3 separate regions of the Homo sapiens genome follow, and all the other regions are linked to region 1. The links come from fine-mapping of genetic effects on plasma protein levels. A gene starts in region 1. Each other region holds a variant in brackets. All regions are shown on one strand. Distances are between the middles of the regions.

Region 1 (8,186 bases):
CCGTCGTGGAGGAGCAGATGGCCAGCGTCACCTGGATGTGTACCATGTAGATGCCATCACGATGGATACGTAGCTGCCCCTTGTCCAGCTCTGGTCCATGCAGGAAGGAGCGGCCCAGTGCTGGGCCCCCCTGCCAGTATAGCCTGGGGTCCTGCTGAGGTCCTGGGGGCACAGGGTTAGAGGGATGAGAGGATGGAGGTTTAGGGAAACTGAGGCACAGGGGGTCATAGAGAAAGTCAGATATAGAGATCGAGAGTTAGAGATCAAGGAATAGGTTGGACGTGGTGGCTCATGCCTGAAATCCTAACAGTTTAGGAGGCCAAGGCGGGTGGATCACCTGAGGTCAGCAGTTCAAGACCAGCCTGGACAACAGGGCGAGACCCCATCTCTACAAAAAATAAAAAGTCAGCCAGGTGTGGTGGTGCACGCCTCTGGTCCTGGCTACTCTTGGGAGGCTGAGGCTGGAGGATCGCTTGAGCCTGGGAGGCTGAGACTGCAGTGAGCTATGATCACACCACTGCACTCCAGCCTTGGTCACAGAAACCCTGTCTCAAAAAAAAGGGAGGGGGATAGAAGGTTAGAGATCTAAAGGGAAGGAGAGAGGGGTAAGGGGAAAGGGGTAGAGACAGGGAGAGAGAGACACCAGGAGAGAGAGAGACAAAAAAAAAAAAAAAAAAAACAGAAACAGACAAGGGTAAAGATAGAGGGGGAGGGAGAGATATATAGAGAGAGAATGCAGAGAGAGAGCAAGAGAGAGAGTGTATGTGTGAGAGAGGACGAGAGTGCACGAGAGAGTGCGACAGAGAGCATGAGAGAGAGAGCATGAGAGAGCGAGAGAGTGTGTGAGAGGACGAGAGAGCTTGAGGGAGAGTGCACGAGAGAGTGCGAGAGAGCACGAGAGAGCAGGAGAGAGTGCAAGAGACAGCATGAGAGAGAGAGAGATCATGAGGGAGAGAGAGCATGAGACAGCGAGAGAGTGTGAGAGAGAGGACGAGAGAGCTTGAGGGAGAGTGCACGAGAGAGTGAGAGAGAGCACGAGAGAGCAGGAGAGAGTACGAGAGACAGCATGAGAGAGAGAGCAAGAGAGAGAGTGTGTGTGTGAGAGAGGACGAGAGAGCTTGAGAGAGAGTGCACGAGACAGAGTGTGAGAGTGAGCTCGAGAGAGTGCATGGGAGAGTGTGTGTGTGAGAGAGGATGAGAGCTACAGAGCTCGAGAGTGCACGGGAGTGAGCGAGAGAGTGCCTGAGAGAGTGAGACAGACAGCACGAGAGAGACAGCGTGCGCACGAGACAGCGCGCAAGAGAGTGCACGAGAGAATTCCCCAAGGGACGCCTGCTCGGGTCACACCCTGAACGCCAATAAAAGCTTTGGCTCCCAGGACCCTTTTTTTTTCTTGCTTTCCACCCGCTGGTTGAGTGTGTGTCTCAGAGAGCTCCCCTACCTTCCCGTTGGCCCTCTTCTCTCTAGGATCTTTATTTTCTTTAGAGACAGGGTCTGGTCCTGTCACCCAGGCTGGAGTGCAGTGGTGCAATCATAGCTCACTGCAGCCTCAGCCTCTGGGGCTCAAGCTATCTCCCACCTCAGCCTCCCGAGTCACTGGGAGGTGGCATGCGCCACCATGACCAGCTAATTTTCAAAATTTTGTTCTAGAGATGGTGGTCTTGCTATGTTTCCCAAGAAACATAGTCTAGAACTCCTGGGCTCAAGCGATCCTCCCACCTCAGCCTCCCAAAGCGCTGGGATCACAGCCGGGAGCCAAGGTCCTCGGCTATATTTCACGTGTTTCATCTCAGCGTCTCCTGTCTCCGCAACTTATCTGACTGACACACCTGAGCCTCACTCTCCTCCTCACTCAAGGCTCTCCTGGAGACTGGCTATCTTGTTAGGAAGGAACTGAACGGGGTCAAACAGGAGCCCCAAGGGTGTTTACCAGGCTTTGCAAATTTCCTGTAAGAGTGACACCTGGTCCCCTGTCACACACTTAGGCATGATATCATCCACCAGAAGAAAGAGCTGTCCTGTGAAAGACACTGTCAACACCTGTGGCCACCACCCCTGGTGCCCCATCGATGTGGGGCTGGACAGCCACTCTCCAGAAAGGGGCCTCAAGACCAAATTACAGGAAAAATATGGCAAAGGCCGGGGAGGGGGGGAAGATATATCAGGGGTCAGAGACCCAAGGAGAAGAGAGAGCAACAAAGGTCCCTTCCATTACAAAATGGAAGGAACAAAACACGCAAGCGTGCAGTAATTTTAGTCTCTGGGGATGAACCGTGGAAAAACAGAAGAGGAAGAAGCGTTCGAGAGAGGCTGGGAGGAGGTAGAGACTTCCACCTAGAGCAGAACTGTTCATTTCTTCTCCCTCAAGGCTTCTTGCCAATGCCACCCACTCAGATACCACCCCCCCACCCGACCGCCGCGACTCCACTTTAAATGAAAATCCCCAACCCTGGCATGCCCGGATTCCCCACCCACCTCCTTGCCTGATTTTTTCTCTAAAACCTGCTCTTGGCCTGTTTTACTCTACGTGGCATTGCTCTGTTTTTCACATGTTCGTTTTTATTTTTTTGGTCATCTCCTCCTCGGTAGGAGTGATAGTAGAAGGGAAGCTCACCAGGCAGGGATTTCTGTCTGTTTTGTGCGCGACTGCAGTACCGGAACAGTGCCTGCCCACTGCAGATGTATAATTAGTGCTTGTAGCATGAATGGAGGAAGGGTAGCCTTTCCTGTGAGCGTTTTCGTTTACTAACAAAACCCCTTTGATTCTTCCAAGGGAGGAGATCGAATGTGAAGGACTGAGAGGGAAAGGGAGAGAAAGGTAGTGGATGCCCAGAAACACAAACCTGCTCGCTCTCTCTCTCCTCTCTCTCTCTCTCGTTCTCTCCCTTTTCCTTTTTCTCTTGGGAATGATCTCTTTCTCCCCCGCCCTGTTTTTCTTCTTCCCCCTCTCTGTCTCTGTCTCTTCCTCTCTGTTATTCTCCTTCTCTTTTCCTCTCTCTGGCTTTCTTTCTTTTCTTTCTCTTATTTCTTTTTTTCTCTTTCTTCTTTCTTTTTCCTTTCTCTCTCTCTCACCTCCCTCCCTCTCTCCTTCCTTCCTTCTTCTCTTTCTTTTCCTTCCTTCCTTTCTTTCTTTTTCTTTTCCTTTCTTCTTTTTATTTATTTATTTGACAGAATCTCCCTCTGTCACCCAGGCTGGAGAGCAGTGCCATTATCTTGGCTCACTGCAACTTCTGCCTCCCAGGTTCAGGCGATTCTCCTGCCTCGGCCTCCTGAGTAGCTGGGATTACAGGTGCCTGCCACCACACCCGGCTAATTTTTGTAATTTTAGTAGAGACGGGGTTTCACCATGTTGGCCAGGCTGGTCTCAAACTCCTGGGCTCAAGTGATCCACCCGCCGCGCCCTCCGAAAGCGCTGGGATTACAGGCTCCAGCAACCACGCCAGGTCGCCTCTCTCGTTTTTATTCTCTCTTCCTCTATCTGTCTTTTTTCTCTTTCTCCGTCTCTCTCCCTCTCTCTCGTTCTGTCTCCCCCGCCTGTCTCCCTCCCTCCCTCTTCCACTCTCCCTGCGTCTCTCCCTGTTTCTTTCTTTCCCCTTCTTCTCCTGTCCCGTCTGTCCCCTCTGTCCCTCTCTCTGTTCTTTTTTCTGTCTCTCCCTCCCTTTCTCTGGGCCTCTCCCTCCCTCTCTGTCTTCTCTCTGTCTCCCCCTCTCCGTTTCCCTCCCTATCTCTCCCTCCCTCTCTCCCTCCGTCTCTGTCTGTGTCTCTTTCTCTCTGTCTCTCCCCACTTGTCTTTCTACCTCTCCTTCCTTCTCTCTCTGTGCCTCTTCTTCTCCCCGTCCCTCCACGTCCCCCGTGTTACCTGTGTGATTCAGCTGCAGCTCAGCTACGTCCCACTGGAAGAAAAGACCAGAAAACAGGGCACGGACGTAAGCAGAGAGGTTCTATGTGTCCCCTGTGCCAGGAGCTCTCTTTTCTCTGTCCATCCTCCTTTCCACCTCTCATCCCACGGCGCGCACTGGTGATTTTATTTCATTTTATTTTTTTTTACTCTTAAGACTTCTTAAAGAGGAAGCAGGTCTGAACCAGCGGGGAACGTGAAGTCGAGACCTTCAAAAGAACTTCTTCGTTTCCCGAATCGTTTTCCTGGATGTCACTGGGCGCGAGAGCACCGCGCGCAGCGGACTCTCTACGCTGCAAAGGCGCCCGGCGCGGTCCCCAAAGGGACCCCTCCCCCACCCGGAGCGAGTGGCTGGGGCCATCCCGTCCTAGGAGGCCCCAGGAAGCCCCCACGCCCAGCCTTGTGAAGCCCCCAGCAGCCTCTGAGTCAGCCTGCCGGGGGAACACCAGAGCCGAGTCATCTTCCATTTCCATGTGTGCCTACCTTTCCCATCCCGGGATCTCCCTGTACCTCCTGGCAGGGCTGCCTGTCTCGTAGCCCCTACACCGGGCAGCCTGGTCCCCGCCTCGCCTCCCTGTTCTGGTCTCTGTCTCTGCCCTACCAGATCTTCCTCTCTGGCCTCTTTGTACCCATCTCATTCTGTCTTTTCGGTCACGCGCCTCTCTATGTTTTCTTCCCAACTTTTCCATCTCAACTCACCCCAAGTGACTCGAGCGGCAGCTGCTGCTGAGCCTGTGCGAAGCGCTGGATGCACACCACGAGGCAGATCACCAAGCCCGCGACCAATGGGACCAAAGCAGCCCGCAGGACGCACCCATAGGGCCTGCGCCGCACCGAGCAGCCCGAACCCTCCTCCGGCATCGCCGCGGCGATCACCTCCGCTAGCGCAGGAGGGGCGATGGGGGCGCGGAGCGCTGCCGAGAAGGAAGGAAGGAAACTGCAGCCCCCTCCCGGGGCTCCTGGGCGTCTACTTGCTTCAACCTGTCAGGGGACCAGCCTGCCCCTCTCTGGGGATGTCCGGCCGGTCGAGGGGAGGGACTTGAGCAATTGGCGAGGGGAAATTCCCTCCAACCGCTGCCAGTCTGAAGATCCTAAAGTGGGTGGAGGCAGTTGCCAGGATGCAGGCAGTGGCCCCGGGTGAGCCTCAGAGTTGCCTGCCCCCAACCCCTCCCCGCCCGACCTTCAGGCAGGAGACATTCAATCTTCCTATTCCCCTCTCCACCTCATTCTTCTGGGGCCCATTCATTTATTCAACAAACCTCCACTGCACATTTATTAGGGATTAGATTGTGCTGTGCACTGGGGATACAGCAGACATCCAAGAATTGGGGGTGCTCCCCAAATATTCGTGTACCCCTCTCCTGCATTTTTTTGATTTGTTTTGTTTTTGAGACGGAGGTCTCCCTCTGTCACCCAGGCTGGAGTGCAGTGGCGCCATCTCAGCTCGCCGCAACCTCGATCTCCTGGGTTCAAGCGATTCTCCTGTCTGAGCCTCGCGAGTAGCTGGGAGTAACATGCGCGCGCCACCATGCCTGGCTAATTTTTTGTATTTTTAGTAGAGATGGGGTTTCACCATGTTGGCCAGGCTGGACTTGAACTCCTGACCTTGGGTGATCCACCCGCCTTGGCCTTCCAAAGTGCTGGGATTAAAGGCATGAGACACTGCACCCGGTCAGTTATCTCCTGCATTCTTGGAGACCACCTGCTTTTTTGTTTAAAGTTAAATTAAGTTAATATTTTTATTTTTTATTTTTATTTTATTTTATTATTTATTTTTTTTTTTTTTGAGACAGAGTCTCGCTCTGTCGCCCAGGCTGGAGTGCAGTGGCGCCATCTCGGCTCACTGCAAGCTCCGCCTCCCGGGTTCACGCCATTCTCCTGCCTCAGCCTCTCAAGTAGCTGGGACTACAGGCGCCCGCCACCACGCCCGGCTAACTTTTTGTATTTTTAGTAGAGATGGGTTTTCACCATGTTAGCGAGGATGGTCTCCATCTCCTGACCTCGTGATCTGCCCGCCTTGGCCTCCCAAAGTGCTGGGATTACAGGCGTGAGCCGCCGCGCCCGGCCTAAATTAATATTTTTAGAGACAGAGTGTTGCTCTGTTGCCCAGGCTGGATGCAGTGGCGCCACACAGCTCACAGCAGCCTCAAACTCCTGGGCTTCAGTGACCCTCCCATCTCAGCCTTTTGCATAGTTGGGTCTACCAGCACACGCTACCATGCCCGGCTAATTTTTTTTTTGGGGGGGGTAGAGGATAGGGTGTTACTATGTTACCAGGCTGGTCTCAAACATCTGGGCTCAAGCGATCCTGCTGCGTAGGTCCCCCAAAGTGCCGGGATGACAGGTGTGAGCCACCGCATCCAGCCTCCTGCTGCTGTTCTCGATGGCTGTAGTGGGTTAACGGTGTCCTCCCAGAATTCATGGCCTCCTGGAACTGCAGAATATGACCTCATTTTGAAATTACGGGGTTTTTTTTGCAGATATAATTAGGCTTAAATGAGGTCATACTGGATTAGAGTGGGCCCTCAGGTGGAGAGAAAAGAGGCTCATAGAGAAGGAGCCGTGTGAAAACAGAAACAGAAACTGAATGAGGCAGATGAAAGTCAAGAAACACCAAGAAGGAGCCAGGCGCAGTGGCTCACGCCTGTAATCCCAGCACTTTGGGAGGCTGAGGCAGGCGGATCACTTGATATCAGGAGTTTGAGACCCTCCTGGCTAACACGGTGAAACCCCCGTCTCTACTAAAAATACAAAAAATTAGCCGGGCATGGTGGCGGGCGCCTGTAGTCCCAGCTACTCAGGAGGCTGAGGCAGGAGAATGGCGTGAACCCGGGAGGTGGAGCTTGCAGTGAGCCGAGATCACGCCACTGAACTCCAGCCTGGGTGACAGAGTGAGACTCCGTCTCAAAAAAAAAAAAAAAAGAGTTGGAGACCAGCCTGGCCAACATGGTGGAACCCCATCTCTACTAAAAATTCAAAAAATAGCTGGGTGTGGTGGTGGGCACCTTTAATCCCAGCTACTCAGGAAGCTGAGGCAGGAGAATCGCTCAAACCCGGGAGGCAGAGGTTGCAGTGAGCCGAGATCACACCATTGCACTCCAGCCTGGGTGACAGAGCGAGACTCTGTCTTAAAAATATATATATTTTTTAAAAAGAGGATCCAGCCTCTTTTTCCGGCTGGAACCATGGAGGGTGTAGAAGAGAAGAAGAAGGAAGTTCCCGCTGTGCCAGAAACCCCTAAGAAAAAGCGAAGGAATTTCACAGAGCTGAAGACCAAGCGCCTGAGAAAGAAGTTTGCCCAAAAGATGCTTCGAAAGGCAAGGAGGAAGCTTATCTATGAAAAATTGAAGCACTATCACAAGGAATATAGGCAGAGGTACAGAACTGAAATTCGAATGGAAAAGATGTCAAGAAAAGCTGGCAACTTCTATGAACCTGCAGAATCCAGACTGGCGTTTGTCATCAGGATCAGAGGTATCGATGGTGTGAGCCCAAAGGTCCGAAATGTGTTGCAGCTTCTTTGCCTTTGTCAAATCTTCAATGGAACCTTTGTGAAGGCCAATTAACATGCTGAGGATTGTAGAGCCATACATTGCATGCGGGTACCTAAATCTGAAGTCAGTAAATAAACTAATCTACAAGCGTGGTTATGGCAAAATCAATAAGAAACGAATTGCTTTGACAGATAACGCTTTGCACGATCTCTTGGAAAATATGGCATCATCTGTATGGAGGATGTGATTCATGAGGTCCATACTGTTGGAAAACGCTTCAAAGAAGCACATAACTTCCTGTGGTCCTTCAAAGTATCTTCTCCATGAGGCAGAATGAAGAAACAGACCACCCATTTCGTGGAAGGTGGAGATGCTGGCAACAGGGAGGACCAGATCAACAGGCTTGTTAGAAGAATGAACTATGGTGTGTACTATAATTATTTTTCTAAGCTGTTCAATAAACATTACCTGCTCTCAAATGGAAAGAAAAATATGTCTGTATATACATACAGTTAGGGTCCCAAGGGCCTCTGGCTATGAATCATCAAGAAGTCAGTGTCATCAGCAGCAAACTCACAGCCAACAGCGCTAGAACTCGTGCCTGGGGATAGCTTCTCTAACACGTGGATTTCCTCCTCTGTGAGGCTCATCACGGCCTCCTTGCTCTTGGGGGACATTAGACAGGGCTTCAGCACTATTTGGGGGCTGTTTGAAACAGCAAAATTACCAACAAAAAGCAAAAAATTGAAAGGAGATAAAAATGGGAGATTTCAGAGCCTGAGCCTATAGCATTT
Region 2 (4,519 bases), 16 kb after region 1:
GTAACAGAATTTTGTGCCTCAAGTGCAAATTTCAAGGGGGCATCTCAAACTGTCATTGTCAAAATAAATGATATTCTCAGGCAACATTTTAAAAAAAATCTAAAAAGTGAAGGTCAAAAAAATTCATGATGAACAAATTGCAAAGATGTTTTAAAGATCAGATCCAACCCTACACTTCTACAATCTGCTTCATTTTTTTCCACCTTCATTCTGGTCTTGCAGCCCAAATTTGCATTCTGGCTCCAACACTTACCAGCTGTGTGACCTGCAGCAAGTGATTTAACCTCTCTGTGCCTCAGTTCCCTGGAAGTAATAAAAGTATCTCACAGGCTTGCTATGAGGTTGGAAGGAATTAATATTTGTAAACTGTTTAGCAAAGAGCCAGTACGTAGTAAGGAACTGGTGAGAACTATTACTATCATTGCTACTACTGAAACGGCCTCCTTGTCTGGAGTAACACCCGAGGTTCACAGTCTCACAGCCAAGGAAAACAAGGACATAGACATAGAAAGAGTGAGGTCGAGAATGGAAGTTTCATAGGCGAAAGAAAGAGGAGAGCTCTCTGCTGCAGAGAGGGGTCCCGGAAAAATGGGTTGCCGTATCAGCGGGGAAATGTAGGGGGTTTTATAGAGAAGCTAGTGAGCAAACGGTGTTTGATTTATATAGGGTGTGAAAAACTGGTTAGACCATGTGTCGCATTTGCATAGGGTGCAAATTTCTGGTAGCCTCTGACCCTAATCTTTTATTATGCAGGCAGGTTCTCTGCCCGAGCTGCGCCATGTTGCCCATTTCTGTTACTGCACGCGTGGTAACATAAAAGGGAAGAGGAAGCGTCCATGTAGGGCCTGCCTGGCCCCTGGGTAGCTCTCTTCTATTGGCGCACCTGCCGGCATTCTCCCGTGTAAGCTTCCAGCTGTGCCTATCTATGTTTGCAGCTCAATTTTTCAGGCTGCTGCTTGTTAGAAAAGAAATGATTTGGGGGCTGCTTTTTGTTAGAAGGGAAGCTCTGCCGAGGACTCTGCTGCCTTCACTATCTGCCTAAATAATTTCTTTCTACCTCCTGTATCACTACGACTGTTGCTATTATTAATCTGAGAAAGAGACTCACTCTGTTGCCCAGGCTGGAGTGCAGTGGCCTGGGCTCACTGCAACCTCCGCCTCCCAGGGTCAAGTGATTCTCATGCCTCAGCCTCCCAAGTAGCTGGGACTACAGGAGCCTGCCATTATGCCCAGCTAATTTTTTTGTATTTTTAGTAGAGACAGGGTTTCACCATGTTGGCCAGGCTGGTCTCAAACTCCTGACCTCAAATAATGTGCCCGCCTTGGCCTCCCACAGTGCTGGGATTACAGGTGTGAGCTACTGCGCCCGGCCTCTTATTATTATTTATTTATTATTATTACTGCTTTTGGAGACAGGGTCTTACTCTGTCGCCCAGGCTGGAGAGCAGTGGTGCAATCATAGCTCCCTGCAGCCTCCAGTTCCTGGGCTTGAGTGATCCTCCTGTCTCAGCTTCCTGAGAAGGTGGGACTACAGGCATGCACCACCACACTCAGCTATTTTTTTTTTTTGAGTTGGAGTCTTGCTATGTTGCCCAGGCTAGAGTGCAGTGGTGCAATGTCGGCTCACTGCCAGCTCCGCCTCCCGGGTTCACGCCGTTCTCCTGCCTCAGCCTTCCGAGTAGCTGGAACCACAGGTGCCCGCCACCTCGCCCGGCTAATTTTTTTGTGTTTTTAGTAGAGACGGGGTTTCACTGTGTTAGCCAGGATGGTCTCGATCTCCTGACCTCGTGATCCGCCTGCCTTGGCCTCTCAAAGTGCTGGGATTATAGGCGTGAGCCACCGCGCCCGGCCTCACATTCAGCTAATTTTAAAAGTTTTTGGAGAGATGGGCTCTTGCTATGTTGCTCAGGCTGGTCCTGAACTCTTGGCCTCAAGTGATACTCCCACCTTGGCCTTCCAAATTGTTGGGATTCCAGGCGTGAGCCACCACCCCTGGCCAGACTTTACACAATAAAGGTGTATTTAGGGCTGCTCTGCCTATGGAGTGGCCATTCTTTACTCCTTTACTTTCTGTTTTGTGTTTGTTTGTTTGTTTGTTTGTTTGAGACGGAGTTTTGCTCTTGTTGCCCAGGCTGGAGTTCAATGGCGCGATCTCAGCTCACTGCAACCTTTGCCTCCTGGGCTCAAGTGATTCTCCTGCCTCAGCCACCAGAGTAGCAGAGATTACAGGTGCCTGCCACCACACCCGGCTAATTGTTTGTATTTTTAGTAGACATGGGGTTTCACCATTTTGGCCAGGCTGGTCTCGATCTCCTGACCTCAGGTGATCTGCCCCCCTTGGCCTCCCAAAGTGCTGGGATTACAGCTGTGAGGCTAACACTCCTGGCCTATTCCTTTACTTTCTTACTAAACTTATTTCACTTAAAAAAAAAGTTTATTTTCTACTCACACAACATTCAGATCAGCAAGGGGTTCTGCCCATGGTAGGCTGAAATAGGCTTCTTCCTTTTTTTTTTTTTTTTTTGTTGAGACAGGGCCTCACTCTGTTGTTCAGGGTGCAGAGCCGTAGCACAATCTCGGCTTAATGCAACTTCTGCTTCCTGGGTTCAAGTAATCCTCCTATTTAGTCCCCCAAATAGCTGGGACCACAGGTGCACGGCACCATGCCCGACTA[AT/A]TTTTTTTTTTTCATTTTCAACAAGTGTTTTGTCACCAAACATTAAAAACCTACACAAAATACAGGCCAGGTACAGTGGCTCACGCCTGTAATCCCAGAACTTTGGGAGTCCGAGGCGGGCAGATCACCTGAGGTCAGGAGTTCGAGACCAGCCTGGCCAACATGGTGAAACTCCCTCTCTACTAAAAATTCAAAAATTAGCCAGGCGTGGTCATGTGCAATTGCAGTCCCAGCTACTCAGGAGGCTGAGGCTTGAGAATTGCTTGGACCTGGGAGGCGGAGGTTGCAATGAGCTGAGATCATGCCACTGCACTCCAGCCTGGGTGACGAGAGCCAGACTTCATCTCAAAAAACAAAAATATATACAGAATACAAAGATAGTATAATAGACTTGTCACCCAGGTTGAACAGCTACTAGTCATGCCATGTTTGCTTCATCTATACTTTGACCCATTTCCTACCCCCCAATTTATTAGTTTTTTGGGTTTTCTTTTTAGATAAAATGTATACATATTGAAAGGTACAATCTGAACTGTACCATTTTGACAAATTAATACACTCATATAGACTTCCCCCCTTTAAAGAATAGAATTACTCCACTTACTAATCATTAATGTACATATAAGTTACGTCGAAGTAGTATTTACAATCCAAATTTTTATAAAATAGGTCAGAGTTTTGACTGAGAATTTTTTTTTTTTTTTGAGACCGAGTCTTGCCCTGTTGCCCAGGCTGGAGTGCAGTGGTGCAATCTTGGCTCACCGCAACCTCTGCCTCCCAGGTTCAAGCGATTCTCCTGCCTCAGCCTCCCGAGTAGCTGGGATTACAGGCTTGCGCCACCTCGCCTGTCTAATTTTTTGTGTTTTTAGTAGAGATGGGGTTTTGCCATCTTTGCCAGGTTGGTCTTGAACTCCTGACCTTCTGATCCACCCACCTCAGCCTCCCAAACTGCTGGGATTACACGCGTGAGCCACCGCGCCTGGCCGAGAATTTTTATTTTTAAAAAAGTAGAGATCTGTAGAGCACACAGTAACTACAATGTCTATTTATCTCAAGTAAATACAGTTTGATGAATAAAATTAAGGAAAATTCACCTAAGATGAAAAAAAAACAATCAAACCATCTGTGCAATATGCTATCTGTAGGAGCATTTGGTTAAGAATAACAAACTAACCCAACAATTTTATTATTTTAATAACCAAAATTGGCACAAATTTCTACTATTGTTTTCATAGAAATGCTCCCTCACAATAAAAAAATTTTCATATCATGAGAGCAAAAACAGCAAATATTTGAAAAAGTAGATGTCTTATAAAATTAAGTAGCAAAGGCCAGGCGCAGTGGCTCATGCCAGTAATCCCAGCACTTCGGGAGGCCGAGGCGGGAGGATCACCTGAGGTCAGGGGTTCGAGACTAGCCTGGCCAACATGGTGAAACCATATCTCTACTAAAAATTCCAAAATTAGCCAGACGTGGTGGCGGGCAGGAGAATCGCTTGAATCTGGGAGACAGAGGTTGCAGTGAGCCGAGATCTTGCCACTGTACTCTAGTTTGGGTGACAAGAGCAAAACTCCATCTCAAAAAAAAAAAAGAAAAATCACAGTTACCTATAATTCGATCATTCAATCAATCATCAGATAACTCAGCTCATTCAATTATCTGCAAGTGTAGATAATTCTCATAGCTTCCTATTAAAATTATGTTTTATGCCCTTACAAATTTTAACTTAGTTTTTCTTTTATTTATTTATTAGTAGGAGTCTCACTCTGTCGCCCAGGCTGGAGTGCAGTGGCACAATCTTGGCTCTCTGCAACCTCCACCTCCTGGGTTCATGCAATTCTCCT
Region 3 (8,197 bases), 23 kb after region 1:
TTATTTTAAAAATAAATATGGTCTCAAAAAACAAACAAAAACAACAGCAACAAAATGGTCTCAGTTAATATTCCAACAGCCCTGGGAGATAAGTAGTATTATCTTGAGATGCCTTTTGTGAATTTTCAGCAACAACTAGAATTTTAAAAACAATCCATAGATATTTCCATAACGTACGTATATGAAAGGACACAGTGAACAATGATAAGAAAACTTAGGTTTTAAAAAGGTTAAGTACCTTATTAAAGGTAAAAGCTGGCCAGGCGTGGTAGCTCACGCCTGTAATCCCAAAACTTTGGGAGGCTGAGGCAGGCTGATCACTTGAGGTCAGGAGTTCGAGACAAGCCTGGCCAACATGGTGAAACCCTATCTCTACTAAAAATACAAAAATTAGCCAGGCATGGGGGCGGGTGCCTGTAATCCCAGCTACTTGGGAGGCCAAGACATGAGAATCACTTGAAACCAGGAGGCGGAGGTTGCAGTGAGCTGAGATCGTGCCACTGCACTCCAGCCTAGGTGACAGAGTGAGACTCTGTCTCAAAAAGAAAAATAAATAAATAAATAAAAATAAATAAATAAAGCAAAGCCAAAATTCAAAACTCAAACTTTATTTTGACTCCAGAGTTCCTTTTATACAATACCTTTTCCTCTGAAGTCATGCCCCAGCTGATATCACAGTCAAAATACATTTTAAAGGATGAGTGGGACAGAGGTGTAATGGGGAAAAGGTACTAGTCAAAACTTTTTAAAAAATAGGCTTTTATGGGTGTGGTGGCTCATGCCTGTAATCCCAGCAACTTGGGAGGCTGAGGCAGGAGAATTGCTTGAACCTGGGAGGTGGAGGTTGCGGTAAGCCAAGATCGCTCCATTGCACTCCAGCCTAGGCAACAAGAGTGAAGCTCCGTCTCAAAAAAAAAAAAAAAAAAAAAAAGTCTTTTTAGAGCAGTTTTAGTTTCGCAGCAAAATTGAGCAGAAAATACAAAAAGTTCCCACACACCCCTAGAGCCCCCTGCTCCACAAACAATCCCATTGTTAACATCCCACCGCACCCGGCCGGCTCTGTGTATTTGTCTTCACTTTTTTCCCCTGCTTCTTGGATTTGCTAACTTTATGGTTGCCTTATCTTCAAGTTTGTTGATCTTTTTTCTACCTACTCAAATCTGTTCTTGAATTCGTCTAATGAATTATCACCTCCATTATTGTAACTTTCAGCTCCAGAATTCCTGTTTGTGAATTTTTAATAATTTATTTCTTTCTATTGACATTCTCACTTCTTTCATATATCATTCTCATGATCTGCTTTAGTTCTTTGTCCATATTTTCCTTCATCTCACTGAACACATTGGAGACAGTTGATTTAATGTCTTTGACTAATAGTTTCAATGTGTGGGCTTCCCTAGTAACAGTATATGTTAAATCATGGTTTATTGTAAATGAGTTATACTTTCCTATGTCTTTATGCTTTGTAATTACAACTGGACATCCTGAGTATTATGATTCATAAGTCTGGAACTCCGATGCTCCAAGTCTTCATGGATTGCTGATTTCTGCTTACTGAAGGCTGAAACTATTCATTTCTGACTTTTCCCGACTGTTTTTTGGCAACTGTGTATCCTTTGGGTGTGATCACTGAAGTGTCTTTTCCATTTTGTGGTCAGTTAGTAACATGACAAAGATTTTACAAGGCATCGAACCTCTAAGTCTGAGGGATAC[G/C]AAGGGACTCAAGAGAGCCAAAACAAGCATCTTATTGGCTTCTCAGGAATTGCCAGACCTAGTAGAGTGCAAATTCCCCAAATTTTGGAGGCCAAGGTCTCAACTGCCTGCTCTGGCACTGGTCACCTGTTTGAGGAAAATGGACTGTCTCCAAATTGCCCCACTCGGACGGAGGAATGGGGAGTGGGGGCTGGTTTGTGAAGGCTGTTCTCTTTCTAAAGTCTCAGTCTCTCTTTTCATCAAGCACTCCTCTCATTATTATAAGTGCTGCAACAGGATGACTAGTTCTGAAATCATTGATTCTGTGTCTCCTGCCCCTCAGTTCACTGTTTATTTCACTGGAGGGAGGGGCTCCCAGAGCTTTCTACTCCGTCTTTTTGCTTGATCTCACTGTTTGCTGACTTTCTGAGATATGCCCAAACTCATATGGCTATTGGAAATTTCCACATTAAAAGTACTTCACCACATTGGGCAACATGGTGAAATCCTGTCTCTACAAAAAAGAAAAATACAAAAATTCCTTGGGTGAGGTGGCACACTCCCGTAGTCCCAGCTACTTGAGAGGCTGAGGTGGGAGAATCGCTTGAGACCGGGAGGCAGAGGTTGCAGTGAGCCGAGATCGCACTACTGCACTCCAGCCTGGGTGACAGAGTGAGGCTCTGTCTCAAAAAAAAAAAAAAAAAAAAAGGTACTTGACATGATAGTTTCCAATAAAAACATTTTAACCTAATTCCTTCATTTCACTCTTTAGCAATCAATATGTGAAAATTATATTGAACTGGTAAAAATGCAGGTTACAAAGATAAGATAAATATGAAATGCTATGATACACTTCTGACCACTGGAAGACATAAGAGAGAGTTGCAATGATTATATTTAATATTTTGGTTAGTAAACAGAGAGAACGCATCTACCCAGGGATTCAGTAGGGGTATGTGAAGATTTAATAAGGTAAGTAATCCTTAGTTTTTGAGAAACCAGAGATAGAAAATATGTTGGTGATTTTTTTTTTTTTTTGAGATGGAGTCTGGCTCTTTTCGCCCAAGCTGGACTGCAGTGGTGTGCTCTCAGCTCACTGTAACCTCTGCCTCCCGGGTTCATGCCATTCTCCTGCCTCAGCCTCCTGAGTAGCTGGGATTATGGGTGTGTACCACCACACCTGGCTAATTTTTTTTCTTTTTTGAGACGGAGTCTTGCTCTCTTGCCCAGGCTGGAGTGCAGTGGCGTGATCTCGGCTCACTGCAAGCTCCGTCTCCCAGGTTCATGCCATTCTCCTGCCTCAGCTTCCCGAGTAGCTGGGACTACAGGTGTCTGCCACCACGCCCGGCTAATTTTTTGTATTTTTAGTAGAGACGGGGTTTCACCGTGTTAGCCAGGATGGTCTCGATCTCCTGACCTCGTGATCCGCCCGCCTTGGCCTCCCAAAGTGCTGGGATTACAGGTGTGAGCCACCGCGCCCGGTCAATTTTTTTTTTTTAACTTTAAGTTCCGGGATACATGTGCAGAACATGCAGGTTTGTTACATAAGTATATGTGTGCCATGGCGGTTTGCTGCACCTGCTGACCCGTCCTCTAAGTTGCCTCCTCTCACTTCTCACCCCCCAACAGGCCCGATGTGTGACGTTCCCCTCCCTGTGTCCATGTGTTCTCATTGTTCAGCTCCCACTTATGAGTGAGAACATGCGGTGTTTGGTTTTCTGTTCCTGTGTTAGTTTGCTGAGGGTGATGGTTTCCAGCTTCATCCATGTCCCTGCAAAGGACACGATCTCTTTCCTTTTTATGACTGCGTAGTATTCCATGGTGTATAGGTACCACATTTTCTTTATCCAGTCTATCATCGATGGACATTTGGGTTGGTGCCATGACTTTGCTATTGTAAATAGTGCTGCAATAAACATATGGTGCGTGTGTCTTTATAGTAGAATAATTTATGTTCTCTTTTTTTTTTTTTTTTTGAGATGAAGTCTCAGTTTGTCACCCAGGCTGGAGTGCAGTGGCATAATCTTGGCCCACTGCAACCTCCAACTCCCGGGTTCAAGCAATTCTCCTGCCTCATCCTTCCGGGTAGCTGGGATTGCAGGTGCCCACCACCATGCCTGGCTAATTTTTGTATTTTTAGTAGAGATGATATTTCGCCACGTTGGACCAGGCTGGTCTCGAACTCCTGGCCTCAGGTGATCTGCTCACCTTGGCCTCTCAAAATGCTGGGATTACAGGCGTGAGCCGCCACACCCGGCCAGGATTGTTATTACTACTTTTAACCCATTTCCCATTTGCCCCGAGAATACTCTTGTCTCTAATCCCAATGTAACATCATATACATTTCTGCTACATTAGGATTAGAGACAAATTCTGTTCAGAAATAACTCCAAGAACAGTTTTTATATTTTATTTGCACATTGAAACTCAACCAGATTTGCTTCAGCCTCAACAAGTGTGTTTATGTAAAGTTAAATGAACTCTGGCAGTGAGCTGCACGTTTTTTAAAATTAGGAAATGAGTTAGCTAATATTGAACTTGAGGTTTTAGTCAATGCAATGAGACAAAAAGATTGAATAGGAAGAAATGAGTCATTATTTAGAGATTACTTCATTATGTATGTAGAAAATTCTAGGCCAGTCATTGTGGCTCACGCCTGTAACCCCAGCACTTTAGGAGGCCGAGGTGGGTGGATCATGAGGCCAGGAGATCGAGACTATCCTGGCTAACACGGTGAAACCCTGTCTCTACTAAAAATACAAAGAACTAGCCGCCTGTAGTCTCAGCTACTTGGGAGGCTGAGGCAGGAGAATGGCGTGAACCCAGGAGGTGGAGCTTACAGTGAGCCGAGATCACACCACTGCACTCCAGCCTGGGTGACAGAGTGAGACTCTGTCTCAAAAAAAAAAAAAAAAGAAAATTCTAAATAATCTACACATAGTTTTATTTTTACTTTTGAGATGGACTCACTGTGTCGCCCAGGCTGGAGTGCAGTGGTGCAATCTCGGCTCACTGCAACCTCTGCCTCCCAGGTTCAAGCAATTCTCCTCCCTCAACCTCCCAAGTAGCTGGGACAACAGGTGCTCACCACCACACCCAGCTAATTTTTTCTGTAGTTTTAGTAGAGATGTGGTTTTATCGTGTAGGCCAGGGTGGTCTCAAACTTCTGGTCTCAGGTGATCCACCCATCTCAGCCTTCCAAAGTACTTGGATTACAGGTGTGGGCCACCACGCCCAACCTACACATAGTTTTTTTTTTTTTTTTTTTTTTTTGAGACAGAGTTTTGCTCTGTTGCCCAGGCTGGAGTACAGTGGTATATCTTGGCTCACCACGACCTTCTCTTCCCGGGTTCAAGCAATTCTGTTGCCTCAGCCTCCTGAGTAGCTGGGATTACAGGCATGCACTACCACACCCGGCTAATTTTTGTATTCTTAGTAGAGATGAGGTTTCACCATGTTGCCCAGGCTGGTCTCAAACTCCTGACCTCAGGGGATCCGCCCACCTCAGCCTCCCAAAGTGCTGGGATTACAGGCATAAGCCACTGCGCCCGGCCTACACATAGTTTTAATATATTGATTTAGCAACAACACCGGAGGCAAAGCCAAAGTACAAAAATAAATCATATTTTTATATACCACTGTCAACTAGAAAAGACATGTAAAACTATGTCATTTACAAACTCAACAAAAATATATCAAATACCTGGGACTACATCTAATGGAAGCACTATATAAATTCTACACCAAAAACCATAAAATGTTACTGAGAAAATTAAAGAAAGCTTAAATAAATAGAAGGATATACCATGGCCAAGAGGTTGGAACATTTAATACCATGAAGACACCAATTCTACACCAATATCTATTGATCTATAGATTCAATGCAATCCCAGTCAATACCTCAGCAGGAAGTATACGTGTGTGTGTGTGTATGTGTGTGCGCGTGAGAGAGAGAGAGGAGAGAGAGAGAGAGAGACTGATTCTAATAAAAACACAGGGAAATGCAAAGAACTAAGAAAGACAAGATGATCTGTAAAAAGAACAGAATGGAGAGACTCTACTATATATTGAGTCTTATTAAAAGGCTACAGCAAGTTAAACAGTGTGGTATTAGTGCCATCAGGGACTACAATCCAGTGGGATTATAAAAATAATTGCTTGGCCGGGTGCAGTGGCTCATGCCTGTAATCCCAGCACTTTGGGAGGCTGAGGCGGGCGGATCACGAGGTCAGGAGATCGAGACCATCCTGGCTAACACGGTGAAACCCCGTCTCTACTAAAAATACAAAAAATTAGCCGGGCATGGTGGCGGGCGCCTGTAGTCCCAGCTACTTGGGAGGCTGAGGCAGGAGAATGGCATGAACCTGGGAGACGGAGCTTGCAGTGAGCCGAGATCATGCCACTGCACTCCAGCCTGGGCGACAGAGCAAGACTCCTTCTCAAAAAAAAAAAAAAAAAAAAAAAAAAAAATTAGCTGGGCGTGGTGGTGTGCACCTGTAATCCCAGCTACTCAGGAGGCTGAGGCAGGAGAATCACTTCAACCTGGGAGGCAGAGGTTACAGTGAGCTGAGATCGTGCCACTGTACTCCAGCCTGGGCAACAGAGCGAGACTCTGTCACAAAAAAAAAAAAATTCTGTAAGGCAAAAAGAAAAAGACAACCTACTTTTAAAAGATATAAAAGATGTGAAGCAACACTTCACATAAAATAATATACAAGTGGACAATACTAGAGAGCATATTTAGCTACATTACTCCAAAAAAAAGTAAAACCACGTGGAATCCCCCTTATTCAACAGTGGAAATTGGCAAGACTGGGCATGACTCTGAGAGTGAGTCAACAATGTGGCAGGATATGTTTCGAACCTTTATCCTTTCACAGAAACATTCATTTCAATAATCTTCTGTGCAGAAAAATACTTTCACAAGAGTCAAAGAATCAGCTGAGAGACCACAGAACTTGAATGGAAAATAACGGTAAGAAAAGATAGGCCGAGCATGGTGGCTCACGCCTGTAATTCCAGCACTTTTGGAGGCCGAGGTGGGTGGATCACCTGAGGTCAGGAGTTCCAACCAGCCTGATGAACATGGAGAAACCCCATCTCTACTAAAAATACAAAAAAAAAATTAGCCAGACGTGGTGGACGCACCTGTAATCCCAGGTACTCAGGAGGCTGGGGCAGAAGAATGTCTTGAACCGGGAGGCAGAGGTTGCGGTGAGCCGAGATCGCGCCATTGCACTCCAACCTGGGCGACAGAGCGAGACTCCATCTCAAAAAAAAAAAAAAAAAAAAAAAGGCAAAAAGAAAGAAAAACAAGAAAAAGAAAAGAAAAGATGTACTGAAGATGGTAGGAAAGAGTTTCACTTGATCTGCATCATCCCCTTCCTGAACCCAAGGCAGCACAGAGAGAGAAACCCACTTCATGGGGGATGGAGAGTAAAGTGAGTTCCTGGCTGCACTGCAGACCTGAGCCCGAGTTCCACTTTAGCGAACACGGATACAGGCTGTCCAGAGAAAAGCAAGTGGAAACTACAGAAACTGTTGTAGAACTTTTACTTGCTGGTCTGGTCTTGGTTGTATCCATCTTTGGCCAGTCACATATGTACTCAAGAAACCTTCCCAATAGAGTACAACAGGATGAGACTCTGAAATCCCTTTCAATATTCCCTGCTAGATATTGATTGTTATATCAAGCATTAAGTGTAAACTTTTAATGGACAATTAGTGTAACTGTGGATGGCATCTGCTTTTGTTTTTAATTCTGTGGATTGTGTTTAAGCAATTCAATAGTATGTTCCTGATTTTGAGATGCTAAGTGGTATTGCACAGATGTCATTTTATCCAGCATGTGCAACAGTCCCATGAAGTTTATAGAGCATACCCTTGTATAGCTTCAGGTGCTAGAATTAAAATTGATCTGTTATCACACACACACACACACACACACACACACACACGCAATCATTCATGTGGACTCAAACTCCAGTTCCATCCCAGGGGATCCAGGCACCAGGTCAGCCCCTGTGGAACCAGGTGCCAAGCCTCCTCTCTTGCTGAAATAGGCACCAGGCAATCCCTCTCAAGGACTCCAGCGAGAAGTCCACCAGCAACTCCCCACCAAACAGGCTGCCTAGAATCTCTAGATAGGCTGACTGGCAAAGTGCTTTTCCTGCTAAAGCCAGTATGTAAAGAACTGACTACTTCAAATGCACAGACACTAATGCAAGGCCATAAGGATCATGAATAATCAGAGAAACATGACATCACCAAAAGAACAAAATAAAGTATGAGAAACTGACACAAAAGAAGTGGACATCAACGAACTCCAGATGAAAAATTCAAAATAATCATCTTAAAGAAGCTCAGTGAATTATAAGAGAACACAGAGAGACAACTGAATGGGAAACAAAACATAATGAAATGACAAATTCAACAAAGAGATAGAACCTATATTTAAAAAAGGACTAAAAAGAAATTCTGGAGCTGAAGAAAACAAGGACTGAAC

Which allele goes with the higher level. Positions count from the first base shown, and alleles are read on the strand shown. Strength reflects both the effect of a copy and how common the allele is. Not every link is listed here.
With allele AT in place of A in region 2, the plasma level of the protein whose gene starts at base 4,907 in region 1 is lower (weak association).

Evidence for each region. PIP is the posterior inclusion probability: the model's chance that the variant is causal. Protein levels are from antibody-based Olink assays in UK Biobank. Linkage for the fine-mapping came from a reference panel and not from the study's own genotypes, which makes the PIPs less certain.
Region 2: its variant is fine-mapped to the plasma level of the CD70 protein (UK Biobank, PIP above 0.99).
Region 3: its variant is fine-mapped to the plasma level of the CD70 protein (UK Biobank, PIP above 0.99).

Annotation. Positions count from the first base shown.
Region 1 is chr19:6,586,244-6,594,429 of GRCh38, forward strand. CD70 (CD70 molecule) reads right to left here and starts at 4,907. Exons shown (of 3, transcript NM_001252.5): 1 at 4,598-4,907; 2 at 3,860-3,893; 3 at 1-162. The coding sequence starts at 4,759. It also overlaps the pseudogene RPL7P50. RefSeq lists enhancers at 1-224, 225-977, 2,079-2,258, 2,549-2,628, 3,807-4,176 and 3 more.
Region 2 is chr19:6,604,279-6,608,797 of GRCh38, forward strand. No RefSeq gene overlaps it. Among named protein-coding and RNA genes, the nearest start is that of CD70, 15 kb to the left of the region's middle. The variant AT/A (reference allele first, on the strand shown) is at 2,675.
Region 3 is chr19:6,609,612-6,617,808 of GRCh38, forward strand. No RefSeq gene overlaps it. Among named protein-coding and RNA genes, the nearest start is that of CD70, 23 kb to the left of the region's middle. RefSeq lists an enhancer at 6,367-6,586. The variant G/C (reference allele first, on the strand shown) is at 1,714.